4 linked regions of the Homo sapiens genome follow. The protein of the gene in region 1 interacts with the protein of each later gene in a pairwise test. Each region holds a gene or a part of one and is shown on either strand. Other genes may lie near its edges.

What was found.
Region 2: the proteins of IPO8 (region 1) and WT1 interact in binary tests that used the Homo sapiens proteins (3 or more experiments, as listed by UniProt).
Region 3: the proteins of IPO8 (region 1) and ZFP2 interact in binary tests that used the Homo sapiens proteins (3 or more experiments, as listed by UniProt).
Region 4: the proteins of IPO8 (region 1) and ZNF331 interact in binary tests that used the Homo sapiens proteins (3 or more experiments, as listed by UniProt).

The regions. Positions count from the first base shown.
Region 1 is NC_000012.12:30,678,845-30,685,869, forward strand, and holds part of IPO8 (importin-8), read right to left. Parts: exon of another isoform or gene 6,956-7,025; intron 5,614-6,955; coding exon 5,457-5,613; intron 2,974-5,456; coding exon 2,815-2,973; intron 1,795-2,814; coding exon 1,638-1,794; intron 1-1,637. UniProt on the Homo sapiens protein: Involved in nuclear protein import, either by acting as autonomous nuclear transport receptor or as an adapter-like protein in association with the importin-beta subunit KPNB1.
Region 2 is NC_000011.10:32,432,537-32,440,079, forward strand, and holds the start of WT1 (Wilms tumor protein), read right to left. Parts: upstream 3,004-7,543; 5' UTR 2,825-3,003; coding exon 2,164-2,824; intron 1,505-2,163; exon of another isoform or gene 1,229-1,504; intron 1-1,228. UniProt on the Homo sapiens protein: Transcription factor that plays an important role in cellular development and cell survival. Recognizes and binds to the DNA sequence 5'-GCG(T/G)GGGCG-3'. Regulates the expression of numerous target genes, including EPO.
Region 3 is NC_000005.10:178,926,899-178,933,723, reverse strand, and holds the end of ZFP2 (zinc finger protein ZFP2), read right to left. Parts: intron 2,488-6,825; 5' UTR 2,411-2,487; coding exon 1,025-2,410; 3' UTR 512-1,024; downstream 1-511. UniProt on the Homo sapiens protein: Probable transcription factor involved in neuronal differentiation and/or phenotypic maintenance.
Region 4 is NC_000019.10:53,569,145-53,576,169, reverse strand, and holds part of ZNF331 (zinc finger protein 331), read right to left. Parts: intron 6,867-7,025; 5' UTR 6,794-6,866; coding exon 6,785-6,793; intron 4,567-6,784; coding exon 4,440-4,566; intron 1-4,439. UniProt on the Homo sapiens protein: May be involved in transcriptional regulation. May play a role in spermatogenesis.

The sequences.
Region 1 (7,025 bases):
TTTTATTTTATTTGAGGCGGAGTCTCGCTCTGTCACCCAGGCTGCAGTGCAATGGTGCAATCTCAGATCACTGCAACCTCCGCCTCCTGGGTTTGAGCAATTCTCTCACCTCAGCCTCTGGAATAGCTGGAATTAGAGGCACCCGCCATCATTTCTGGCTAATTTTTGTATTTTTCTAGAGATGGGGTTTCACCATGTTGGCCAGGCTGGTCTTGAACTCCAGACCTCAGGTGACCCACCCACCTTGGCCTCCCAACGTGCTGGGATTACAGACCTGACCCACTGCACCCGGCTGCTCATACTTTTAAAAACAAAATTGTCTGCTCCTTCTCATATTATCGCTTTTTACTTATGTCAGCATTGTAATAGTGGCTCCTAATGCCTTCTAAATTTCTACTTCCCAGAGGAGAATATTAATGTATTAGTACATAACAGATTACCAAAATGGTTAAAAATGTTGAGGTTTTCCAGGTTTTTAGCAAGTATAGACTGAGAAAAATATGAAGATTCTGTCGTCTTAGCAAACCAATTAGAGGTAGAGGCTTTAGAAAAATTATTTCATTAGCCTTTGTCTTACTTCCCAATTTCTAGCTGTTTCTGCCAATAGAAAAAGGAAGTCTGGCCTCTGAATATTATTTCAAAACAAGTGAGAGAACATATTTTCCTAGTATTCTAGTTTCTTCTCTTCTCACATTTGCCTCCTTCCCTCTTCTCTTTCCCTGCAAAAAGGCTGCTCTGGGGGAAAAAAAAAAATATCTGCCTCAGACTATCCCTATTAAAAGTTTAAAAGGGGAAGCTTTAATAAAAATATAAATCTTTATTAAAGTAAAATATTTTGAAATAGTTTAAGTATCTAAGTCAATAAAAAGCCAAGGATGGATCCAAACTATCATGGTTTTTGAGCTCAACAAAACCATCCTCTTCTCACGACAAATTCAACTAGAAAGCATGTAATAGAGTTTAATTCATTCATCAAACAGTTAAGACTGAAAACAATTATTCTTCCTCCAATCAGACCTAAATAATTTACCCAAATCTTTCAAGGATTTGATGTTAAATATTTTTATATTTCAAACATATTCCATCTCTATCTTCTCATTTCTTTCCGGATTCCCATGTTGGTATCCCTTATAGCATTCAGATTTTTTTTTTTTAGGCAGTATTTTAAACCAAGGAAAATGAACCCTAAATCCTCTGTTAGCTTTGAGTCAAATGCAAAGAAACTACCATCAATATGATTTCCCAATAGAAGAGGGACTCCCTTCTTCTTTTCCTTCTTCTTTTCCTTCTTCTTTTCCTTCTTCTTCTCTTGTAATCATAACTAATCTATAGGCAGGAATGCTACAGAACAGATAGTTGCGAGTAATCAGGTTTTAGAGCAGGTAGGTTTACCTACCCTGGTTCTGCTTTACCCATGATTTCAGACACTGGAGTGAAAAGCACTTAGGGGCAGATATGCCATTGAGACGATCTTGGGTAATTAATTTCTGTGAACCTGTTCCTCATAAGCATTTTTTAAAGAAATATATGGGATAATACAAAATAATTTTTAATAATAAGTGACACTTATTGAGCACTTTCCATGTGTCAGGCAGAAATACAGGACTCCATGTTTGTTTTCTGCAATAGAAACCTACCTGAACAAGTGCATAAAAGATTTTCAGAATTTGTTTCTGCAGTAATACAGAATAATAGGAGGAATCAGGAAGGAGCTGAACAATTTGTTGCTGAATACGAGGCAGGAATATCTGCATTGCTATTATAAGAGGTTCTCTCTCTTCTGCTTTCTTATATCTACATGAGCAAAGACAAAAACAGAAAAGTAATTTTTCCCACCCAAAGAACCATCAACAATAAATTATAAAATATTTTTTAAATACATAAAACTAACAAAACAAAGTCATTAACATTGGCTTCTAGTTTGTTTGAATTGCTAGAATTAAGTTGAAAAGAAATTTAAAATAACACATCCTGTTTTAGGCACAACACCTAAAATCTTTCTGGAAAGATTTAGACTAGTTTAAAACAACCCGAGACCATTTTGCAGTTTTCCTACATGAATGTTTCTAGTATTTAAATTAATTTTCATCCAGCCAAAATTCTTACTATAAAATATAAGTTGCTATGCTATTTTAAATAGACTATATAACAAATAATATGGGGGGAATTTTCTTATTATATTTCTCCCTGAATTGAGTAGTTAAAATAGTTTAAAATTTAGGTGCTCTTAGATTGCTTTAATTGCCATAAATCTAAAATATGTTCTATAAATTTCATAAGCAGAGTAGGAACTAGTCAGTTTAAAAGGAGAACTACAGGACTTCATATACACATGTAGCAATCTTCCTAGAAACCAGAAAGCAATACTATTAAGTGTGATATTAGTCCTCTACCTACCCAAGCTACTTTTATGGAAAAGAATGTCATTAGCAAAGAAACGTTAACATTTTCTATCTTGCATCCAAAAAAGTAAATGTTTTGGTTTACTTAATATACTCCCTAGAAGACAAATATAAAGGTATCTCTATATCAGAGTTTCCAAGGAAAGCTGTTAATAAATGGTACTGTGCAACTAACAAGTTTGAGAAGTGCTTCATATTATATCACTGTCTCAGAGGTTAGCAATATCCATCAGCACATTAAAGTTTCTTTCAATAACTGCAGCAAATAAACACATTTAAGCATGTTTAACCCAACATTTCCCAAACTAATCTGATAACCTGTGCAGAACATCCACAACAGACCACTCTTTGCAACTTCATTATTTCTAAGTTACACAAGGCTGCTTTCTTCAGCCAATGGAAACCAACTTACTCATATGTCTTCACCAGTTGATACAGGCATAATAAACTGCCAAGCCAGCTTGCACTGCTCTGTGATTGCAAGTAATAGTCTATCTTGTCGACCACTCCTGGCCAGTGACCAGGAAAATCATGTTTTATGATGGCACGGAGACACATTGTTAATTGGACTCTACAAAGTAGGGAAGAAAAGTCCAAAATCTAAGTAATTATAAATACTGTGTTTCAAAGACCTCTAATATTTTACATAAAAGTTTGTTATCTTCTATTTACGTGTATTATATACTTACATATGTGGGGTAGGGGAAAAAGACATATCTAAAAAACATCCTCAGTGGCTCAACTTGTTGAAAATAAACAGAATGGGTGAGTTTCTAAAATGAATGAAACCTTTCAAACTATCTTATCCTAAATACAGTTTAAAAAAATTGTTTTAAATAGTTTAAAATTTTCAAAAAACTCCAATGAATCTACCTCCACTCTGTAAAATTTCCAGCTTATTATATCTCATATTTTGGTTACCATATCCTGAATGGGGGAAAAAATAACACTTCAAACAGATAAACCTAGTCTAAAGATGGTACAAGTAAGTACAAAGAAGGCCTACATAATGGTGGGAAGCTTCTCTATGGGCCAAAACCTTGAACTCATCCATTATCAATTAAAACCCAACATCGTATGTTGAATCTATCCAAAGCAGTCTGAGATACTAATTTTTGTACCCCAAGTATAAGAAAGAAACATGTATTATTAGCGAGGCAATTCCTGAAGAGGAGAGCTAAGAGCTATTTCCAAAGAAATAAATGAAAAAGGCAACAGAAGAGACATAAAACAGAAAAAGAAAATATTCCTTTAATAAAACCACAAAGTTAAATGCTAAAATAAGTTATCTGATAACATAGATAAGTAATCATTTCCTCAATGAGATTTCAACTTTAACTGGAACTGAAAAGAAAATAGGGGGAAAAATTTCTTTTCTATAAACTATCAATTCAATGTTATCACCAAATATGACCTTACATGACATTTTCAAATGGTTAGAAAACAAACTTGGCAAAATTAGGATTCCACAGGGCAACTAAAAAAAAAATAAAGCATTTTCAGTTGAACAACCAGTAACTCAGATTCACTTAAACTGGTAAAATTAAACAAAATGATGCCTTTTCTTCACGTTATCAAATCTATTTGAAAAATCCCTTTGTAATACTCTTAAACTTTGAGAATAGGTGGAAGAAATTTCAACAATGATTATAATTAAGCCTTAAGGACATAAAAGGAGCAAAGCCACAGAGAACCGTCCCGTAATAAAGATAAAAGATCTCCTTTAGTGCCAGTAGTAGCTGCTCCTTTAAACAATAAATGTCATATTTGTAAAAAATAAAACTGAAGCTTTTCATTTTTTAAAATTTCATCTTCAGGTTGATTCTCCCAGTCCTTTCTCATTCCAAGCAAAGGATGGTTATGAAAGGCCATCCTTCATGCATTACTGTGTAGAACCACTCGAAGATTAAGGGAGATCTGAAAATTTAAGATTTTGAAAATAAATGGATACATGATGGTACCACAGGGGTATCAGTCCCATGACTGGCATTTGGGCAACCAATAAGAATAATAGTGATTTTTTCTTTTTAACCAGTACACCTATTTTCTCCTCTTAACAAATTAATTGCTCTAAGAGTTCAATGTTTGTTCTCCTTCCTGTTACCCGTCGTACTTCCTTCCTTTTCCACTGCTTATGTCATGATGGCTATTAGATACTAAGGGCTAACGTTATATTCAACCTCTTGATATTAAAAAATTTCATTCCTCTACCTCTGTTTTCACCTATTTGTCCCTCCCATTTTCAAAAGATACCTAATTACTATCTTGTATGTTGAAAAGAATTTGTTTCTCCTATTTTAAGATTGCAAAATTTTTATGACTTTACAGCTGCTCTGTCCAATAGAGCAGCTGCTAGTTAAATATGCACACTTTAAATGAATCAAAAGTAAATAGAATTAAAAATTCAGTTCCTCAGTTACAACTAGCAACATTTCAAGTGCTCAACAGTCATTGATGCCTTGTGGCTAATATTAGATAGCACTGACACAGAACACTGTCACTGCAGAAAGTTCTGAGGGACACTACTGCTCTACAGCATCTAATCTATGACTGTAAAAAACTGGAGACAGTTCTTCTAGTTTATACCTACTCTATCCTGTCTTCTCTGAAGGAAAACATGCTCAATTCATAAATGTGAATAAAAATACAGGGAAAGATTAAGACAGGTAGTAGGTAAAAATTCCCAGAATCAGTCTCTCTGTATCAAAGAAAAGAAAAGCAGGTAGTAAAAAAACTCAAGAGATCATTACTAAGAATAAAGGTCATTTAAGTAGCAAGACTTACACAATTGTTTTGGTTAAGTATCATTTTTTTTAAATCTTACCTCTTTTTGTGGCAACATACGACAACAAAATCTTTTCCAAAATATCTTGAGGCAAAGAATTACAAATGCAAAGACCACTAAGTAAAATAATATTCTTTGAGTGTCCCTCTTTATTACTTTACCTCTTTAGAAAATGAAACATGAGGCCAAGGATTAGATCCAACAGCACCCACCCTCAGATCTAACCATTTCATGCTTTCTAGTAATCACAAATATATAGCACCACATACCTCACTAAATCTGGAGACCGAATTATTCCTTCCACAATGTTATCACGTATTTGCTGGCGATCGTTTTCGTGAATGTTGAATGGAAATATTGCTTCTCCTGGTGGAGGTTCTCGATCTGGCCAGTATTGTGTCACCATGTTCTTCAGGTAAATGGCAGCTGAGTTTGAGAAAAAATGCTAATGTAGCAGTACCAAAAAGGATGGCTTTAATTCAGCCTTACAGAGCATGAAAGTCCAAACCCTTCAATGTTAAACATGAAACCCAGCAAAAATGGATACTCTTACAGGTATAAACAGCCAAATCAGGAAGGGAAAGTGGATAAGAATTTAAAGGTTTCACTTCAGCTAGTCTAAGCAGAAAACATTTCATTAAGTCAAGACCCAGAGCTTACAGGACAGGAAAATTATCTAGAAATAATGCATAGTAAACATACTTTGAGATCATAAAATCATACTTTTCGCAATGCCTAATTCTGAGGTGACAACAGGTAAAGTTCTACTTTCCTTCATGAAGATGGCTTTTTTTGTTTTTTGTTTTCCCACTGGCTACTGTCAAACACTAGCATTTTGGGGTATCTCTTCTTTTTATAGTATTGGTAATTTTCATCCAACCTTTTTGAAATATGTACTACTTGTAAATATAATAGGGAAATGAACATCAGCCATCAAAAATTTTTGGAAAAAAGCTCAGAAAATTTTTATATGTTCACATCTATCAAAATACATAATCTGATTTTGTTCTGTTCTTTTTAATCGTCTTCAACCTTTAACAAAAGGCTTCTGAAAGAAACAGGCTGACATATTGCTACAGCATTTTAAGAAAGAATGTGAAGCTTTTCTTTTCTTTTTTTTTTTTTTGAGACGGAATCTTTCTCTGTCATCCAGGCTAGAGTGCAGTGGCAAGATCTTGGCTCACTGCAACCTCTGTCTCCCGGGTTCAAACGATTATCCTGCCTCAGCCTCCCAAATACCTGGGATTACAGGCATGTGCCACCACACCCAGCTAATTTTTGTATTTTTAGTTAGACAAGATTTCACCATGTTGGCCAGGTTGGTCTCGAACACCTGACCTCAGGTGATCTGCCTGCCTCGGCCTCCCAAAGTGCTAGGATTACAGGTGTGAGCCACTGCACCTGGCCAGAATGTAAAGCTTTCTAACCATCCCAGTTGAACAGTGAATGTAAGTAAATACTTATAATGTTGTGTGTGTGTGTGTGTGTGTGTGTGTGTAAAGAATACAGATACGTGATTTGCAAAGCAGCATAACTTTCTTCCCTTAAGCTTCTCTTCTTTCCCCACCCAACTCTTTCTTCACCCAACTTTTAACATATAACTAAATTCATGACCCGGAGCAGTGACTCACACCTGTAATCCCAGCACTTTGGGAGGCCGAGGCGGGCGGATCACCTGAGGTCAGGAGTTCGAGACCACCCTGGCCAACATGGTGAAACCCCGTCTCTACTAAAAATACCAAAATTAGCCAAGCATGGTGGCAGGTACCTGTAATTCCAGCAAATTCCTTGAACCCAGGAGGCGGAGGTTGCAGTGAGCTGAGATCATGCCACAGCAC
Region 2 (7,543 bases), on another chromosome or scaffold:
AGATGGTGCTTCCAGGCTATATGACTTGAATCTAGGGCCCTCTCTCCATTGGGCTTTTTCTCCAGGGTGGAGAAGAAGGATACATTCACCTACTAGTCCTGGTCCCCTTTTAACTTTTTCTCCATGGCAGCCACGCCTGTATATTACAGAAGAATCCAGATATTTTCCAGAAGTGTAATGCCTGCTGGCTGCAAAACCCACAGTCCCACCCCCCACGACATGTGATAAGATCCCAGGCACCAGACCTGCCCTGAAAAGGGCTGGACAAGGGACCCAAACGAAGCGACAGAACCCAGGTTTCAAAAATCCCCTAGAAGTACTAAAAAGATAATGGCGTAGTAGTATTTTGTGCCCCAGGGGCATGGATTCGATGGTTTCTCAACCGCCTCCAAATAGCACACATGCAGACAGTGCTCTCGGATTCATTGTTTCTCAGTCACAGATGTTTAGATGGGTTGCCGAGTTCCATATTTAAAGCCCCAAGAGGGTGGTGGGTAGCGCTTCTGCATCTATGGAGTATAACTTCAAGCCGGACCCAATCTCCAGGTTGCCCATCTCAGCTGTCCTCTTATAGACGGGGACACTGAGACCTAGAAACTCCCCAAAAGTAACACCAGCCTGCTAAACAAAGGTGGCGCGATCTGATCAAAGAACACAAGCCTCAGCGACCAGTAAGTTGTCCCAACGCCCCTTGAGTACAAAACACTAATTTCACTAACTAAAAGCATAGAGTGGAGGCAACCCTTGGGTCTGCTTGCGGTTCCTCCACAGGACAGTGATCCCAGATTCTCCCGAAGAAAAGGGCGGTTTCGATTTCTCCAAGGCTTCGCGGGGGCCGGGTGCTCCTGGTTAGGCTAAGGTAGGAGCGGCCTGAAGACGCGCGTTTAGAAGGCGCGGGTGAAGGCGGGCAACAAGGGCAGAGCCCTTCTCCCGAGCCTTGGGCGAAGGTACCTCCTGCAAAAGATACACTCTGCTTCCCACGCATTCCAAAAACATCCCGGTCCCTAGGCCCTCGAGTAATTTTGCTCCAGGAAAAGCATCCGCCATTGTATTAGTAAAGCGTTTACTAAATTACCGAATCAAACCGAACTGGCTTAGGTTCTCAATAGCGTGGAAATCCACTGAAAATAAATGAAGAGGGCAAACTACAGGGGCTCCGCAGGTTCGGGTCCGCGCCGCCCAGGCGAAAGAGAGGTGGGCGGGCATCGGCGCGGGATGAGAAACCAACCTGATACTTATCGTGTGCCGAGTTCCCTCCTTGTATCCTGACTAAGCACAGCGAATAACCCTGTCCTTGTTCTAACCCCAGGTCTTGAAGAAATACTGTCCCAGCTGAGCCCCGCGTTTACAAGATGAAGAGGCGCCCCAGATGCGCTGAAAGAAAGGCCAAAGCTCGTGCCTCCTTCCACTGCCTGCGGTAGAACCTGGTCCCGCATAGCTTGGACTCGGATAAGTCAAGTTCTCTTCCATCCCCAGAACCTGCGTGGCCGCCGCCTGAGCGAAGCCCAGTGAAGATCCACTTCTGTATTACCATACGCGGGAGCTATCCACGGACACGACGCTGTTCCAGAAAGCCATTTAGTTACTGGAGGTGCATGTGCTCATTCTAGTTCTCTACGATACTTAATGTGCACCTAAGTGTGTGCCAACACCGTATTATAAGGGCTGGAGGTGCTCCTGGACATTTTAGCGCTGCGGAGGCAGCACAGCACAGGCGCTCACCCCCGCGCTGGTCCCACTCCGAATCCAGAGTCCAGACGTCTGAAAAGCGCTACGCTTGGTGACAATTTGGCGTTTCCTTAATTAACAAAACTCTCCCCAAGGCAGAGCCAGACACTGCGCCGGTCTCCTGGTTCCACTCCCGTGGGGACTAGCAGTCCCGGAATCTCTCGGACTCTAAGGGGCCCCAGACGCCCTCCCGGCTCTTGCGAACAGTCAGGCTCCTAGCTCTGCCTGGCTTTGGAGGATGTCGGGGGCCAGTGCCTGCGTGCACTCCCACTCTCCGGCCTCCTCCCCAGCCGCCGCTTCCGCTATCCTCACGGCCCTTGGGAAGCAGCTGGGTAAGAGCTGCGGTCAAAAGGGGTAGGAGAGGGGGGTGTCCTAGAGCGGAGAGTCCCTGGCGCCACTGCCCCGCGCGTAGGGGGCGCTCCCCGGCCTACTTACCCTGATTGCGAATAGCGGGCTGGCTCTCGAGGCAGCTGGGCAGGTAGGGCGCGTTAGGAAACATCCTGGCCTGGCCGGATGACGCCTGGCTGGGCGGAGGAGGACCGAAGGGCCCGTAGCGACAGGCTCCGGCTGTGCCAGTGAACTGGCCGGAAAAGTGGACAGTGAAGGCGCTCAGGCACTGCTCCTCGTGCGGCTCCGCGCCGCCCCAGCTCGGCTCCTGTTTGATGAAGGAGTGAGGCGGCGGCGGCGGGGGTGGCGGCGGAGCCGGTGGCGGCGCGGGGCCGCCCAACGACCCGTAAGCCGAAGCGCCCGGGGGCGCAAAGTCCAGCACCGGCGCCCACTGCGCCGCGCCGCTCACAGGCAGGGCACAGCCGCCGCCGCCACCCAGGGAGGGGACGGCGGGCAGCAGCGCGTTCAGGTCCCGCACGTCGGAGCCCATTTGCTGCGGCTCAGACCCGGACGCCCCGCGGCTCCTCCGGCCCTGGAGACGTTCAGCGCTGGCCTCGGCGGCGCCTAACTTGGCCCAGATGCCGCCCGGGTCCCGGACTCCCTGCTGCTCTGGCTGCTGTAGGCACCCAGGCCCGGAGCGGAGCGTGTGCTGAGACGCCGGCTCCGGGACACACGTGGAAGCCGGGTCCTGCAGCAAGAGGAAGTCCAGGATCGCGGCGAGGAGACGGCGGGGCCCGGGCGCCTGGGCTGCCGTCCCGGCTCTGGGTGGGTGGGTGGGTGAATGAGTAGGTGGGAGGGAGGGCGGGAAGTGGGGGAGCGGACAGGCGGTCGGGTTGCGGAGAGCCCCCGGGTGTGGGCGCTGCCTTGAACTCCTTACCCCAGCTGCCTGGCTGCCCTCAGCTTCCCAAAGCTCAAATAAGAGGGGCCGGCGGCGCGGGGAAGAGGAGGAGCCAGGAGGCTCGGCCGCTCCATTCACTCAGCAGCCCAAGCCCGGCCAGGCAGCGCGCGCTGCTCCTTGGGGGCGCCCTCGCAGCTGGGGTGAGGGCGGGTCCGAGGGAGCGTCCCTCTCGGAGACACCCTCCTCTTCAACCCAACACGCGCTCTCAGCTGGCCGGTGTGGCACAACCCTCCCCCCACCTCCCCTTCTTGGCCTTCGCCAGTGTGGGAGCCTCGTCTCACTGGAGAGTCCGTTCAGGTAAGCAGTGAGTCCGGGCAGGGTCGAATGCGGTGGGAGTAGAGATGGGGTTGTTAATCTAAAAGAGTGGTTTGGAGGGAGGGGCAGGTAGGCTCCAAGAGGGCGGGAACTTCAGGAAAGCGCAGAAAGAACTCAGTCAAGCTTCAAAGAAGCGTATACCCTTGCTTTGCACCCTTGAGTCTGGCTCTTGCTTCTAGAACTGTCGGGTAGGGGAGTGGCCATGATCTTGGGGTCACTGGGGAAAGAGGTGGCCCTTTGTGGGTTCCAGAGGTCGGGACTGAAAGCGAACGTCCCTCAGTTGGGTGGCCGGGAGTTGCACCAGTTATAAGCCGGGCGTATTTCGATCGGCTAGTAGTTGTTTACTTGGTGAGGTTTGCGCCAGGCGGAAGGCGGTTGCCGCCTACCTAAAATTGGAGTCAGCAGCACTTAGTTTCCCTTTCCAGTGAGGAATATCTAATTCTTCTACGGTTAAGCCGGGAAAACAGCGGCTAGTTTAGGAGGGAAGAAAACCCTTGGGCAAACGCCCAAAGCCTGCGTATATTCCGGCCGGAGCATCCTGGCGCCCAGTTTGGGGAGGAGGGGTGAAGGGGAGGGTTTGGATACGAAGCCCGGCAGGGAGCGGGTAACTCCTGGAGCCACTCCGCCGAGCACTGCCTGTGGCCCTGGTCGAGGATACCATTCTGGTTGCTCAGTGATTGACCAGGAGGCGGAAGCCAGTTAAGGGGACCAAGGAGTGGAGTAGGGAGAACCTCCATCGGCCCACGGGCGCGAGTTAGTGTTCGAATCTTTGGGAGCTCGAAGAGCTTCGCTAAATCTGACTCCCTTCGTCTAGTCTCTGTTTGGCAGCCCCCGCGCCCCAGAGCAGGTGTTTGGGGCGGGTAGGGGGTGTTTTGGTTTGGTTTTTGGATCTTCTAAAGGAGTCAGTATCTATTGGGAAACAACCCCTAGGCAAGGAGAAGAACCGGGGGCCGGAGCGGAGCGTGTTTCAGAGGTGCGTATAAAATCCCAGGGGCGCCAGGAGGCAGCAGCGACGGCGCAGCGTGGGACGGCCAGGCGCGACGGGAGGGAAGCAACCGGTTGCAGTCCGGCCTCCTGTACCTGGCTGGCCCGGGCTGGGGCTGCAAGCTTTCCAGCCAAACTTATGTGAAGCAAAGTAGTTGCAGTTTGACAAAGAATGGCGTTTCAATAAATGACATAGTAATTTTTTACGCTTTGGTTTTTAGCTTGCATTGCATAAACGTTGTCGCCATTAAATTCTGGCTGCGGACCCGAAGTGTGTGCGGGCCCAGGACTTACTCGAAGGGCGCACTTCTTGGGAATGCGCATCCCGTAGGCGCAGGAGACCCTGAGGGTAAAGATGCGGCACTTGAGCCCTCCGCTTGCCTCCCAGGCCACCTTTGCTGCTTGACTTTGCGTCGTCTCCACTCAGAAGCTTTTAAAATTATTATTAAGAAAAGAAAGATTCTACAAGACACTGCCCCCACGCTCTCTGCTCAGTCCTCTCCCACACGATCTATCCCTAAACCTTTCGCGGGGCTCGCGCGTTTGGTTTTTTGAGTGGAGAAAGGACTCTCGAGACAAAATTCACTGCCAGTTGCCCTAAGAACCCCCCAGATCCCTGTATCTCCCTTCCTTCTCCCCGCCTATTATTTCTACTTGGAAGTCGTTTTTCTTAACTAGGACTCAACTGTGAGGGGCGAGGAGCCCTTTATGAAAAGCCGGGGACTTTCATTTCCAAACGAAAAGATTGAGATTGTTTCTTCTTTTACCATCCTTGGCACTTTTAGCGGGGGGAGAGGAGGTTATCTGAAGGGAGGCTGGCTTGAATGTGAGTCGTTGTGTTTGTGAAACCCAGGTAAGGCAAAGACACGTAAATCTCTGCCAACATTTTTCAAAAATAAGTTTTTGCCCCGGGGTGAGGGATGTAGGGGTGGATAGGAGGAAAGGAGAGCCAAGCAAATGTAGAACTCCTCTCTCCTCTGCCATTTATTTTCTCAGAATCCTTGTGGGGGCGGGGAGGGGAAGAGCACCGGTGCGAACCCCGGGGTGCCCCCTCGCCCGACTTGGACTTCTCCGACTAAAGAGGTGGGAGGAGTTCCCTGCAGCCTGCGGGGCCAAGAAGAAAGTGCTAAGCTGAGGAGCCGCAGTCGGAGGACCCCAGGGACCCGACAGGAAGTCTCCGTACGACCCCAACGGATCCACATGCCCGGAAGCCCAGGCGACACTAAGCCAGCGCTGGGGAACTGACGTACTCCTGCAGTCGCAGGGCGCTCCATGCCTCTCTGTCCTCTTCTTTGTTGTGGGTAACGTTCTCTGCGGGAGACCTGAGGTTTTCCAAGGGGGACATGCCAGCTACACTGGCCTTGGCGCCCTGAGCTAAGCACCAGGACTCACAGCCTAGCACGAAGGCAGGTAGCACCTTCACCCGCCGCGGACGATAGGCGCTCTCCTGTACCTCCTTTAGCTCGCGAGGCCCGCCCTTCGCGAGGTCCCAGAGAAAAGCAGGCTGTGGAAAACTGGGCGCCCCCTTCTTTCACCCACCTTCTTACCCCTGTCAGCGCCGAGATCTGTAGCAGAGGTTCCTGGTCTGAACCACCGATTGGCAAAGAAAGCTGCAGATTAAACTTCTCGTTTTACAGAGAAGGAAACTGAGGCCCAGACAGCCGAAGGAGAGGCAGTCTATGGAGCGCAGCGGTAAAGAGCAAGGGGTTGGTGGCCCCAGAATGGAACCTCAGCTCTGCCAGGTAACCAACAGCTGTGTGACCCTAGACGAGTTCCGCAGTCTCTCTGAGCCTCAGTTTCCTTACTGGTCAAACGGGATAATGGGATACTAGCGCCCACCTCATAGAGTTGTTCTGAGGATTAGATAGGAGAGCAGTGTGGGCCTTTGACTCAATCAACTTTACAGTTTTTGTTACTACTACTGTTTAAGGACAGGAAACAAGTTAGTGGCAACGCCGAGCTGAAACCCGGGTCTCTCAACGTCCAGTTGGAGGTTTTACCCACCACCCCTCTACCTCTTCAGAGCTAATGGGATGCAGAGGCGAGGACAGCCCCTGGAAAACCATGTGGCGTTGATACACTGGCAAAGCGCAGGCATCCCGGCCTCGAAGGTGCATAATTATTGCAATATGAAAAAATCGAGGCTGGGTAGGAGCAGGGCAGTGAGGATTTCTCAACCCTTACTTTCACCCCGGCGCTGTCCACTGCATCTGACAGAGCGCGGAGCTGGGCTGCTACAGCCGCAACCCCAGGGACCAGTGCGCACGCCTGGGCCGCCCTCCGGGAGTCACCCAGCGGCCGCGGACAACTGAATAAACACCCCAAAGCGCTGCGGTCGGTCAAGGGCGGGGACAGCCACACTGCGCGCGGGGCCCGCAGGCCGTAATAAAGAGTGGCTCGACCTCGCTGCTGCCTGTCGCGGGAGAGGAACAAGCTTTCGACTAGCGCCTCTCCCCGGGGCCCGCGCCCCGAGCCCCACGCGCAAGACAGCCCAACAGCTGTTCCTCCCCTCCCCGCCGACTCCAACTCTTCGGAATCTGCCCACTCGGGGCTGCAGGGCAAGTGTTTAGGATGGTTCCCAGCCCCGCGCTGGCGGTGAAAATTTCAACGTCATTCCTTCAATTAAAAAAAGGGGGGGGCAAGGGAGGGGCTTTGTGATAACTACTCCCAGCTTCTTCTGATCATTTCAAAATTAAGTCGATTTTTTTTAACCAGTCCCCACTTACTGTCCTAACTCTCCTCGCTGACCCTATCTGGGAGCCCGGAACCGTTAGGTACTGCCGAATGCGGTGCAAAATTTCCCCCTCTCCCCCAGTTCGCAGTGCCTGGAGCCGCTGGGGTTACTCGTCTGTTCTGATGCCACCGCGAGATGGTCCCCGAGCTCCCCGAGAGTCCTCAGTGAAAGGATTCCGCGGCACTGCCTCTATTATTATACCGTAAATCTTTTTAAATTCTGGAACTAATTATATAGAGGATATGTCTCAATTTGTTCTGCATTAATGCCACAGTGGGGATGGAGGCCAGGCCGTGGCCAGAGCAGATACGTAGGCCCATGAAATTGATGAACTGAGAGTTGCTTCCAGTCCTGAGCGCACCATCTGGAATTCCAGTCTGAGGTTACAATTAGAACTCCTGACCCCAGATTCAACTTTGCAAACAACAGGGGAAAAAAATGGGGAAAAGAAAAACCACGAGAGAGGGAAAAAAAATTATTCTGCACCTGTAAAAAAA
Region 3 (6,825 bases), on another chromosome or scaffold:
CGGGGGCTCATGCCTGTAATCCCAGCACTTTGGGAGGCCGAGGTGGGTGGATCACGAGGTCAGGAGATTGAGACCATCCTGGCTAACATGGTGAAACCCCATCTCTATTAAAAATACAAAAAAATTAGCCAGGCATGGTGGCAGGCGCCTGTAGTCCCAGCTACTTGGGATGCTGAGGCAGGAGAATGGCATGAACCCAGGAGGTGGAGCTTGCAGTGAGCTGAGATCAAGCCACTGCACTCCAGCCTGGGCAAAAGAGCGAAACTCCATCTCAAAATAAATAAATAAATAAATAAATGAAAACATTTGCATACTTATTCCATTAATTTATGGAAACCAGCCTGTAGTTAGGGGACAAAATAACAATGCAGGGGAAGATTAGGGGCATGGAAGGGTACTAGGAATTCGTAAAGGTAAATCATTTTGACTAAAAGGATCCAAGGAAACCAGATTGTGGAACAAGAGCATCTAGACTGCATACAGACAGCATAAGATCGTAAAAGAACAAAGATTTCCCAGCATTCATTATATTTATAGAGTTGTAGCATTTTAGAGCTAACAGAGCTCCTACAAGATTTCTAACTCCAAAATCATTCATTTACCAAATAAAGAACCATAACCTGGTGGAAGTAGGCAAGTTGTCCAAGGCAGTGGCAGATTAGGACTACATACCAGGTCTCTGGGCTGTCCAGTTAAACACTCTCACATTTTTCTCTCCAGTGTAAAGTCTCTGATAGCCAAAGGAGAATGTGCGGTATGATATAACAGAACTTATCTTCAGCATGACTCTTCATTGTTTATATTAGCTATTTAAACCTTCTGATATAAAGGAAATTATACATTCTGAATCAAGATTTCTCTACTTTTAGATGGATTCTCTGCAGTGGTATTATCTGATATGACATATTGTACTTCAACTGAAAGATTCCCACAATCATTACATTTATTAGGTTTCTACATTGTATGTCTCATATGATTATTACTGAAGAGTTAATCATGAGGTAAGGGCCAGTGAAAACATTCCTCACGTATGAGTTCTTTGATGTCGTGTAAGGTTTGTACTCCGGCTGAAGGCTTTTCCGCATTCATTACACTGATAGGGTTTCTCTCCTGTATGAGTTCTCTGATGCACTGTAAGGGATGAATTCTTAATGAAGGCTTTTCCACACTGATCACATTCATAGGGTTTCTCACCAGTATGAATTCTTTGATGTTCAATAAGGTAAGCACTCTGGCTGAATGCCTTTCCACATTCATTGCACTCATAAGGTTTCTCTCCAGTGTGAATGACCTGATGCACGGTAAGGGATGATCGTCCAGTGAAATGTTTTCCACACACCATACACTCATAAGGTTTCTCTCCAGTGTGAATTCTCCGATGTTGAGTTAGAGATGAATTCTTACTGAAAGCTTTTCCACACTCGTTACATTCAAAAGGTTTTACTCCAGAATGAAGTCTCTGATGTTCTATAAGATATGTACTTTGGCTAAAGGATTTCCCGCATTTGTTACATTTGTAAGGTTTTTCTCCAGTGTGATTTCGCTGATGTAGGGTAAGAGTTGAGCTCTTACTAAAGGCTTTTCCACATTGACTACACTCATAGGGTTTTTCTCCAGTATGGCTTCTCTGATGTACAATAAGATGCATGCTTTGACTGAAGGCTTTTCCACATTCATTACATTCATAGGGTTTTTCTCCTGTATGAGTTCTCTGATGAACTGTCAAATTCATGCTTTGGGTAAAAGCTTTACCACATTCATTACATTTGTAGGGTTTCTCTCCAGTATGAATCCTTTCATGCTGAATAAGAGATGAATTCTTATGGAAGGCTTTGCCACACTCTTTACACTGATAGGGTTTCTCTCCGGTGTGAGTTCGTTGATGGACAGTAAGATTCATGCTCTGACTAAAGGCTTTCCCACATTCATTACATTTATAGGGTTTCTCTCCAGTATGAATTCTTTGATGTACAGTAAGGGAGGATCGTTCAATGAAGTGTTTCCCACATACATTACACTTATAGGGTTTCTCCCCAGTATGAATCCTCTGGTGCTTAAGAAGGGATGAGCTCTGACTGAAGGTTTTGCTGCACTGATTACATTCATAGATCTTCTTTCCTACAAACATTCTTTGAGTTTTAATTAACTCAGAATTTTGTGTGGCATCTTCTCCATGTGAATTACAGTTATGGGGCCTTTTTACCATAGGAATGCTTTGCTGTGTATCAAGGATTGAATCCTGACTGGAACATCTTTCAAATTCATTACCTCCACATACTCTCATCTCAGTGAAGGTTTCCTTATGGGTAACTCCCACTTGGCTCAGATGACTATCCTGTTGTCCCTCTAACCAATTATTAGGTTCCCAGGTTTCCCCTAGAGTAGAATGCCAGATACCTTCCCTTTCCATTGTTACCCCATGGCATAAATCTTCAGTAATACCCGGCTTCGGAGTTGGCTCTTTGGTTTCAAGTCTTGTCTCCCAGTCTGAAAAAAAAAAAAAATTCAAATGCACATTGGTTTCTGTGCTAGGAGACTGGAAACTGCATAAGGTAGGAATGAGAGAATTAAACTAGCTATCAACTAAAATAACTGCTGAGCACATTTGAGAGCTTTCAAACATGTACCCAAAATTAGGTAGAGAAATAGGAAGGGAGAGAAACAACAGTGAACTGATCCAAAGATAACAGGGGAACTGAAAGCAGGGGATGGCAGATGTACTGCATAAGCAGAGAAAAGAGTGAGCCCATTCAGGAGGGATGGACAGTGAAGGCACTGACCACTGGAGTAGGCTACATAATGAAGATGGAACTAAGGAAACACATGCAGAAGAGCTGGGATTGGGAAAGGCAGATCAGGAAACCCTGCACACTGTACCTGGTATTCCTGCCAGAAGTTTCTTTCCTCCTACGAGGCCACCTAGAATCCTACACCAAATTAATCTTCCTAAAATGTCACAGTGTGACACAATGTAAAGATTGCTGACTCAAAGTCAGACAAACTTGGATTCAAACCGTGGCTCTTAACACCATCTTAACTAGTTACTTGTCTCACTGGCTCTGAGGGTCACAGATATAAAATGAGGATTAAGAAATATGGTCAAGCCCGGGTGTGGTGGCTCATGGCCGTAATCTCAGCACTTTGAGAGGCCAAGGCAGGCGGATCACTTGAGGTCAGGAGTTCAAGACCAGCCTGGCCAAAATGGTGGAATCCCATCTCTACTAAATACACAAAAATTAGCTGGGCATGGTGGCAGGCGCCTGTAGTCTTAGCTACTTGGGAGGCTGGGATGGGAGAGTTGCTTGAACCCAGGAGGTGGAGGTTGCAGTGAGCTGAGGTAGTACCACTGCACTCCAGCCTGGGTGACAGAGTGAGACTCTGTCTCAAAAAAAAAAAAAAAAAAAAAAAAGGAAAGGGAAAAAAAAAGAAAGAAATATGATATAGGAAGTAAATAAAATGAAATATGATAGGAAGTAAGTAACATAATCTAGGTGGTATAGTTTGGATGTGTGTCCCCACCCAAATTTCATATTGAAATGTAATCCCCAGTGTTGGAGGTGGGGCCTTATGGGAGATGATTGGATCATGGGAGTGGTTTCTTATGAATGGTTTAACACCATCCCCCTTGGTACTGTCCTCCCTATCATGAGTGAGTTCTTGTGAGATGTGGTTATTTACAAGTGTGTAACACCTCCCTCCTCACTCTTGCTCTTGCCATTTGATGTGCCTGCTCCCCTCTCACCTACTGCCATGACTGTAAGCCTCCTGAGCCCCCCCCCCCACCGTCAAGCAGATGCTGGCACTATGCCTCTTGTACAGGAACTGTGAGCCAATTACACCTCTTTTCTTATAAATCACCCAGTCTGAGGTATTTCTTCATAACAATGTGAGAATTGAGTAATACAGAAAATTGGTACGGGGAAGTGGAGAATTTCTATAAAGATACCTGAAAATGTGGAGGTGACTTTGGAATAACTGGGTAACAGGCAAAGGATGGAAGAGTTTGGAAGACCCAGAAGAAGATAGGAAGATAAGAGAGAGTTTGGAACATCTTAGAAACTGGTTAAATGGTTATGACCAAAATGCTGATAGTGATATGGACAGTGAAGTCTTGGTTAAGGTCTCAGATGGAAATGAGGAACTTACTGGGAACTGCAGCAAAGGTCATTTTTGCTATGCTTTAGCAAAGACCTTGGCTGTACTGTGCCCCTGCCCTAGGGATCTGTGGAACTTTGAACTTGAGAGAATGGTGATTGAGGGCATCTGGTGGACGAAATTTCTAAGCAGCAAAGCACACAAGAGGTGGGTTGTCTGCTAACAATCTATGCTCAGATGTGAGAACAAAGAAATGACTTAAAACTGGAACTGGTATTTAAAAGGGAGTAAGTGGAACATTTGCAGCCTGGCCATGTGGTAGAAAAGAAAAGCCCATTTTCAGGGAAGGAATTCAAGCAGGCTGCAGAAATTTGCATGAGTAAAAAGGACCCAAGTACTAGTAAGCCAAGACAATGGGGAAAAGGCCTCAAAGGCATTTCAGAGACCTTCACAGCAGCCCCTTCCACCAGAGGCCTAGGATGACTGAATGGTTTCCTGGGCCAGGCCCAGGGCCCGGTGCCCTGCACAGCCTTGGGACACTGCTCCCTGCATCCCAGCTACTCCAGATCCACCCACGGCTGAAAGGGGCCAGGTTACAGCTCAGGCTGCTGCTTCAGAGGGTGCAAGCTGTAAGCCTTGGCAGCTTTGATATGGTATATAAAGCCTGTGGGTATACACAGTTGAACAGTTAAGGCTTGGGAAACTCTATCTAGATTTCAGAGGATGTATAGAAAAGCCTAGGTGTCCAGGTAGAAGCCTGCTGCAGGGGCAGAGGCCACACAGAGAACCTATACTAGGGCAGTGCAGAGGAGAAATGTGGCATTGGAGCCGCCATGTAGAATCCCCACTGGGGCACTGCCTGTGAGAAGAGGGCCACTGCCCTCCAGACTCCAGAATGTAAGATGCACTGGCAGTTTGCACCCTGCATGTGGAAAAGCCAGAGACATTCAACTACAACCCATGAGAGCACTGCAGGGACTGAACACTGCAAAGCCATGTGGGCAGATCTGCCCAAGGCCTAGGGACTCCACCCCTCGCAGCAGAGTGCCCTGGATATGAGATACAGAGTCAAAGAAAATAATTTTGAAGCTTTAAGATTTAATGACTGCCCTGATGGTTTCTGGACTTTCATGGGGCCTATAGCCCCTTTCTTTTGGCAGAGAGTTCTCCCTTTTGGAACAGGAGTGTTGACCCAATGCCTATACCCCCAGTATATCTTGGAGGTAACTAACTTGTCTTTTATTTTATAGGCTCATAGGTAGAAGGGACTTGCCTTGTCTAAGATGAGACTGTGGACTTTTGAGTTAATGTTGGAACGAGTTAAGACTTTAGGGATTAGTGGAAAGGCAAGATTGTATTTTGAAATGTGAGAAAGACATAAGATTGGGAGGGGCCAGGGGCAGAATGATATGATTTCATTTGGATGTGTGTCCCCACCCAAATCTCATATTGAAATGTAATCCCCAGTGTTGGAGGTTGGGCCTTATGGGAGGTGACTGGATCATGGGAGTGGTTTCTTATGAATGGTTTAGCACCCTCCCTCTTGGTACTGTCCTCCCTATCATGAGTGAGTTCTCATGAGATCTGGCCACTTAAAAGTGTGTAGCACCTCCCCCTGCCACTCTCTCTTGCTCCTGGTTTTATCATTTGATATGCCTGCTCCCCTTTTGCCCTCCACTATGACTGTAAGCCTCCTGAGGCTTCCCTACAAGCAGATGCTGGCACTAATGCTTCCCGTACAGCCTGTAGAACCATAAGCCAATTAAACTTTTCTTATAAATTACCCAGACTCAGCCAGGCTTGGTGGCTCACGGCTGTAATCCCAGCGCTTTGGGAGGCTGAGGTGGGCAGAATCACCCGAGGTCAGGAGTTCGAGACTAGCCTGGCCAACATAGCAAAACCCCATCTCTACTAAAACACACACACACACACACACACACACACACACACACACACACACACACATTGGCCAGGTATGATGGTGTGCACCTGTAATCCCAGCTACTGAGGAGGCTGAGGCAGGAGAATCACTTGAACCCGGGAGGTGGAGGTTGCAGTGAGCTGAGATTGTGCCATCACACTCCAGCCTGGGCGACAAGAGCGAAACTCCGTCTCAAAAAAAAAAAACCCCAAAAATAAATAAATGAATAAATTACCTAGTCTCAGGTGTTTCTTTATAGCAATGTGAGAACAGACTAACACAGTATGTAAACTACCCTTTGAGAATATACTCCTCTGGAACATAAAGTACCAGAACATACATGAAACTTAAACTCTTAAAGGAGGATGACACAATCTAGAGGTTTCTTCCCCTTAAACTTTAAGCAGGCTGTAATTTATTCACAGGGGTAAGACAGTCCTAAGGGATACTACCATTTCCTAAATACGCATTCCTTAAAGATGAGAACTGGTGGTAGGGACAGGCCAGGGGATCTGCTAAACTGTTTGAGAGGAGGCTGGAAAAGGACCTTGTAGCTACTCAGACTTGAATTTTCTTAGATCCTATTTCTTATCCCAGACAAAATAAGGGGTAGAGGACTGGCACTGCAACCTGAGAATCAGCTTTCCGATTGCTGATCGAAGTCAACAGAGAGAGATCAACACTGAACAAACAAACCAAGGCCTATGGGCACAGGCTTTCCTGTGAAGCAAGAAATAAGCATTAACCAGGCCTCTTTCTTCCAACCTGATCTGCTTAAGTGAAAAGAGAGAAAAAGTGGAAAGACAACC
Region 4 (7,025 bases), on another chromosome or scaffold:
TCTACTAAAAATACAAAATTAGCCGGACATGGTGGCGCATGACTGTAATCCCAGCTACTCGGGAGGCTGAGGCAGGGAAATTGCTTGAACCTGGGAAGCAGAGGTTGCAGTGAGCCGAGATCATGCCATTGCACTGTAGCCTGGGCAACAAGCATGAAACTCTGTCTCAAAACAAAAACAAAAAAACAGACTGGGCACGGTGGCTCACGCTTGTAATCCCAGCACTTTGGGAGGCCGAGGTGGGCAGATCATGAAGTCAGGAGTTCGAGACCAGCCTGGCCAACACGGTGAAATCCTGTCTCTACTAAAAATACAAACATTAGCTGGGCATGGTGGTGGGTGCCTGTAATCCCAGCTACTCCGGAGGCTGAGGCAGGAGAATCGCTTGAACCCGGGAGGCAGAAGTTGCGGTGAGCCGAGATTGTGCCACTGCACTCCAGCCTGGGTGACAGAGCTAGACTCCATATCAAAAAAACAAAAAACAAAAAACAAAAACAAACAAACCCTGTCTGTACTAAAAACGCAAAAATTAGCCAGGCATGGTGGTGTGAGCCTATAATCCCAGCTACTTGGGAGGCTGAGGCAGGAGAATCGCTTGAACCCGGGAGGTGGAGGTTGCAGTGAGCCGACTGAATAAGACTCCGTCTCAAAAAAAAAAAAAAAAAAAAAAGCAACTGGGTAAAAGAATACAACATTCAAAAGCAACAAAAAAGATAATTTACGAGACTAAATTTAATAAAAAATGTGAAAAAGTTTAGAAGAACAATAAGGAAAAGTTTAGAACTTGAGCATCAATAAGGAGGCTAACTGCAAAGGACTGAGAAACAGCAAACGTTTAAATCTATAAGTTCATAATGATACTACAAAATGTTAAATGGCCAGCTCTGGAACACGCTAGGAAACCAGACCTTTATTATAAAAACTGGCAATTGGCTAGGTGCAGTGGCTCACGCCTGTAATCCCAGCACTTTGGGAGACCGAGGTGGGTGGATTACTTGAGCTCAGGAGTTCAAAACCAGCCTGGGAAACATAGCAAAACCCTGTCTCTACAAAAAAAATACAAAAATTAGCCAGGTGTGGTGGTGTACACCTATAGTCCCAGCTACTTGGGAGGCTGAGGTGGGAGGATGGCTTGAGCCCGGAAGTCAAGGCTGCAGTGAGCCCAGACTGCACTACTGCACTCCAGCCTGGGAATCAGAGTAAGACCCTGCCTCAAAAAAAAAAAAAAAAAAGAAAAGAAAAAAATACAACATAAAAACTGACAAAGAAAAAGAACAAAGTTTTTATCCTTCTTATCCAATATGAACAGTGCCACTGCATGAGCAATTAGCAGATGAAACAAAGTTTCTCTTTAAATTATAACAGCTGATAAATGAAGGGGCAGTGATAGGCGCGCACCATTTGAGCCCCCAGTGTGATGAATGTAAGCAGTGCCAATGACTGCCAATGGCAAAGAGGAGCTACAACCAGACACCAGGTGCTTCATGGTGGTGACACATTAACAACACCCGGGAAGCAGTACTGCCAACACCTAGATATGAGAAAAAGAAAACGGGCACTTAAAGCGAGGCTAACCCACTTTCAGGAATGATAAAGGGCAGAGGACCCTGTCACCTCTACCCGCTACTAAAGGCGTGGCCCACAGACCAGCAGCACCAGCAGCACATAAAATGGGGTTAAATATGACAGGAAAAACAAGGTGACAGGGAAATGGGGTGAAGATCAAGTTCGTGGTAAGATCTTTCTTTCCTAGAGGCTTTGGGCCTGAGCTCTTGGAGAAAGCTCTCCAACACCTCAGGGTGTGCCTGTTCCCTGCCCTGTGGGGATGCTCTTTGTACGGGTGGCTGACTGGCTCCCACTTTCCTCCGTATTGTTGTCTTGTCTCTTCCCTCACAACCATCAAGGCTCTTTCCCTTAATTCTATAAGACAGTACCTCTGGCTTAGAAATTATATGCCCTCCTTTAAAAAAACGAAATGCTAGAGGACATAGAACTTGAGGAAAAATTTCAAGCTCAAAACTTCAAAAATTCTTTAAAAATTATTTTTATTTTTTGAGAGGGAGTCTTGCTCTGTTGCCCAGGCTGGAGTGCAGTGGCATGATCTTGACTCACTGCAGCCTCTGCCTCCCAGGTCCCAGCAATTCTCCTGCCTCACTCAGTCTCCTGGGTAGCTGGGATTACAGGCGCACACCAGCACACCGGCTAATTTTTGTGTTTTTAGTAGAGACGGGTTTTCACCATGTTGGCCAGGCTGGTCTTGAAGTCCTGACTTCAGGTGATCTGCCCGCCTTGGACTCCCAAAGTGCTGGGATTATAGGCGTGAACCACCATGCCTGGCCTTAAATTTTTTTTGATTGAGTATTAATCAAATTTATAACAACCAGAAGTCAAAATGCTATTGAGCCAGGTGCAGTGGCTCACGCCTGTAATCCAGCCTCTTTGGAAGGCTGAGGTGGGTGGATTCCTTTAGCCCAGGAGTTCAAGATCAGCTTGGACAACATGGCGAAATCCCATCTCTAAGAAAAAACACAACAATTAGCCGGGTGTCGTGGTGTGCACCTGTGGTCCCTGCTACTCAGGGAGATGAGGCAGGAAGATTGCTTGAGCCCAGGAGGTTGAGGCTGCTGTGAGCTGTGATCGCGCCACTGCACTCCAGCCTGAGTAACAGAGTGAAAAAAAGAAAAAAATCTCAACTTAAAAAAAAAAAGAAATGCTATACCTCTACCTCCCGGGTTCAAGTGATTCTCCTGCCTCAGCCTCCCAAGTAGCTGGAATTACAGGCATGCGCCACCACACCCGGCAAATTTTTGTATTTTCAGGAGAGATGGGGTTTCACTCTGTTGGCCAAGCTGGTCTCGAACTCCTATCTTCGTGATCCGTCTGCCTTGGCCTGCCAGTCTTGTGATCACAGGAGTGAGCCACCGCACCCGGCCTTATTTTTTATTATTTTTGAGACAGAGTCTCGCTTTGTTGCCCAGGCTGCAGCACAGTAGCGTGATCTTGGCTCACTGCAACCTCTGCTTCCCAGGTTCAAATGATTCTCCTGCACCAGCCTCCGGAGTAGCTGAGATCACAGGCGTGCGCCACCATGCCCGGCTAATTTTTATATTTTTAGTAGAGACAGGGTTTCACCATGTTGGCCAGGCTGGTCTCTAACTCCTGACCTCCAGTGATCCGCCCACCTCAGCCTCCCAAAGTGCTGGGATTACAGGCGTGAGCCACTGCGCCTGGCCGAGAAAAGGTCATATTTTAAATTTCTGTAGGCATTATGCCTGGAGGCAAGTGGAACATGGTGGCTGGCAGCAAGGAATCTGGGGACCAAAACTGTTAAATCTGATTCTAGCTCCTGCTCCCTCCGTCTGACTGCATCACTGTGTTTCAGTATCCTCATCTCCAAAATAGACAATGATTGTGCCTGTCTCATCTGCCTGTGAGAACGAAATGCAATGTACTTACACACACAGTGCTTAGCACAGTGCATGGCACACAGTAAGCAGTTTATATATATAATATATACTATATATGTATATATTGTATATGTATATATGTGTATATATAATATATATGTGTATATATAATATATATGTGTATATATAATATATATGTGTGTGTATATATAATATATATGTGTGTGTATATATATAAAATATATATATTCCTATTTGTTTATTGTTTTAGCGATGGGGTCTTGATCTGTTACCCAGCCTGGAGTACAGTGGTATGATCATAGCTAACTATAGCCTTCAACTCCTGGGCTCAAGTGATCCTCCTGCCTCAGTCTCCCGAGTAGCTGGGATTACAGGCAGGGTCACCACAGACAGCTTAGCCATTAATATCATTGTTGTTATTTTTGCTAGAAGAAAAATAAGTTTCCAGGGATGTTTGCAAGATATTGTCATTCAATGTTTAACTCACAGTTCGGGGATTGTAACTTTCAACCTCACTTCAGGTATGGTATGTAAGAAATGAAATACGCCCACTTTGGTTTTACACAAATTCTGTTTGTCTGATCTACTGTACTTCAAACACATAGGCTGGTTTACTAGAACAATTCAGGGCACTGTGTCCACATGTTTTCCCTAGACGTGGGTCCCTAGAGTAACACCGACCACCAATAGCAATTTGGGTATAAACATACTCTCACAGGACAAACTGGCTCCTTTGAAGATGGTCATGAAATAAATATCCCAGAATTCCCACTCATTCCACGGACATTAAGGAAGTGAGATGATTACGGGGGAGTCGACAAAGGTGGGAAGGTAACCGATGGATGGGAGGGGAAGGTTGTGGTGCTCACGGCCACATCAATAAGGCTCAATACATTCCTTGGGGACAGGAAGAAGAAATTCAACTAGTTTCTTGAAAGGCGGTCCTGAAATTCACAGGGGAGAGCGGATATTCCAGGAGGCAGTCTAAGTTATCTGAGGCGTGCAACTCACCCAGTGAGACCAAGTTACTGTAGTTCTCCAGCATCACGTCCCAGTACAGGTCCCTCTGAGCAGAGTTCAGACAGGCCCACTCCTCCTGAGAAAAGTCTATGGCTACGTCGGCGAACGTCACCAAACCCTGAAACAGAAACCCACACGTGCATGATGAAATGAAAGGAAACAGCTTCCAGATGAAGGAGACAGGAGGCCACCCTCTGGGTAGGGTGAACACCGTGAGCAGACTGAACACCCGTGACATCGGCAAGGGGCGGTAAGGACATCACTGTAACTGTGACGGAAGCAGAATGCCTGCATGTCACTGAAGAGCTCTACCGCTGCAGAGAAAATGACTTTACTGTGCAGAATCCTCAGTTAGTCAAACCTGCCAGGAAGTGGATAAAACAATCCAAGTTTTCTTCTTGCTTACAAGCAGTGTCTGCTACGTGCCTGCCTTATAAGTTCTCAACAAGTGTGGATTCCTACAGCATTTTTTCTTTTAAGGGGGGAAGAAAAATCAAGATTTCTGTTTAAGAACTTTTATTTTAGAAAATAGGGTTTGCTGGGGCTGGGCGGGGGGCTCACGCCTGTAATCCCAACACTTTGGGAGGCCAAGGCAGGCGGATCACGAGAACAAGGCAGGCGGATCACGAGGTCAGGAGATCGAGACCATCCTGGCAAACATGGTGAAACCCCATCTCTACTAAAAATACAAAAAAATTAGCCGGGCGTGATGGTGGGCGCCTGTAGTCCCAGCTACTCGGGAGGCTGAGGCAGGAGAATGGCATGAACCCGGGGTGGTCAGAGCTTGCAGTGAGCGGAGATTGTGGCACTGCACTCCAGCCTGGGCGACAGAGCGAGACTCTGTCTCAAAAAAAAAAAGAAAAGAAAAGAAAAGAAAAGAAGATAGGGTTTGCTGGGTGTGGTGGCTCATGCCTGTAATCCCAGCACTTTGGGAGGCTGAGGCAGGCGGATCACCTGAGGTTGGGGGTTCGAGACCAGGTTGACCAACATGCAGAAACCTCGTCTCTACTTAAAATACAAAATTAGCTGGGTGTGGCGGCGCATCCCTGTAATCCCAGCTACTCAGGAGGCTGAGGCAGGAGAATTACTTGAACCCGCGAGGCAGAGGTTGAGGTGAGCCAAGATGGCACCACTGCACTCCAGCCTGGGCAACAAGAGTGAAACTCCGTCCCAAGAAAAAAAAAAAGAAAATACGGTTTGCATGTTTGAATGTTTTCAAGCCTCCAGTTCATCATGCCAAACTACATTTTAAGCAGTCTTCCTTTTAAGCATTTAAAAAATTCCCACACAGGTAAGTCAGACTGTTTATTACAGTTATTCACTTAGGTTGCCCAAAACACCTAAGGCTTTCTCCGATTCTGGGGTATGTGATCATCTCCTACTTCCATACTGGAAGATCTTCATATTTATTACCATCCATAACCCTGCCTTTCCCCCGTTCCTGATTTTTTTTTTTTTTTTTTTTTGAGACAGAGTCTTGCTCTGTTGCCCAGGCTGGAGTGCAGTGGCATGATCTTGGCTCACTGCAACCTCCATCTCCTGGGTTCAAGCAATTCTCCTGCCTCAGCCTACCAAGTAGCTGGGATTATGGACACATGCCACCATAGCCTGCTAATTTTGGTATTTTTAGTACAGATGAGGTTTTACCATGTTGGTCAGGTTGGTTTTGAACTCCTGACCACAAGTGATCCACCCACCTGGGCCTCCCAAAGTGCTGGGATTACAGGTGTGAGCCACCACACCCGGCCCCCTGTTTCTGATTTAGAGGATAAGGATGTCAGATGACTTAGAATCATCTTGTGGTCTGAGAGATCCATTCAATAATAAAATTTATCCTCCAGTTTCCCGGCAGGAACATGACCTCTGTTCAAAGGTCCTAATCACAGCCCCATCCCTTTCCAAAAGTCCCATAAAGCTTGGGATCTGAGCACATACTAAGACAGACCGGCGAATATGAGCATTCCCTCTTATCTACGCAGAAAACATGATCAGTGGAGGATCTGTTTCTCATGTGGTCAGATGGGACCAACATATCTAACTCATCAAACCACAGACTTGACTTAAATATTTCCCTCAAAGGACTTTGCTACTTCACTGCTCCAAAATTACCCTTGCCAAAAAAGGGAGCAAACAGGAGATACTTAATCACCTGCTCAGTGATTTCCCAAAAAGGCAGACACGGAGCTACGTGGCATTATCATTCACTGGAATAGAAAGAGCTGGGAAACAGGTAATTATAAAGAGCTTGACTAGATAAAAGGCTTCAGATAATTCACAAGCAGATGCACAGAACGCAAATATCATAGCTCAAGAAGGAAAGAGAAATATACACTTACCTGGGCCATTGTTTTAGAACTGAAGAACTGATCAGTCTTCTCGGGGTTTCCACTGAAGAAGACAAATTCCGAGAGGCTAGAGCTAGGGGTGGAAAAAAAGAGATTAAAACGAGGTGCATCTGGGGTCCCCATAGTGATGTAATATGACCTTTTGGCTCCTCTGTCTTGGCTTCCCAACACAAACACATAACCGTGACATATCTGGGAAAGGTGAAGAGTATCATGGATCAGGCCAGGTGCG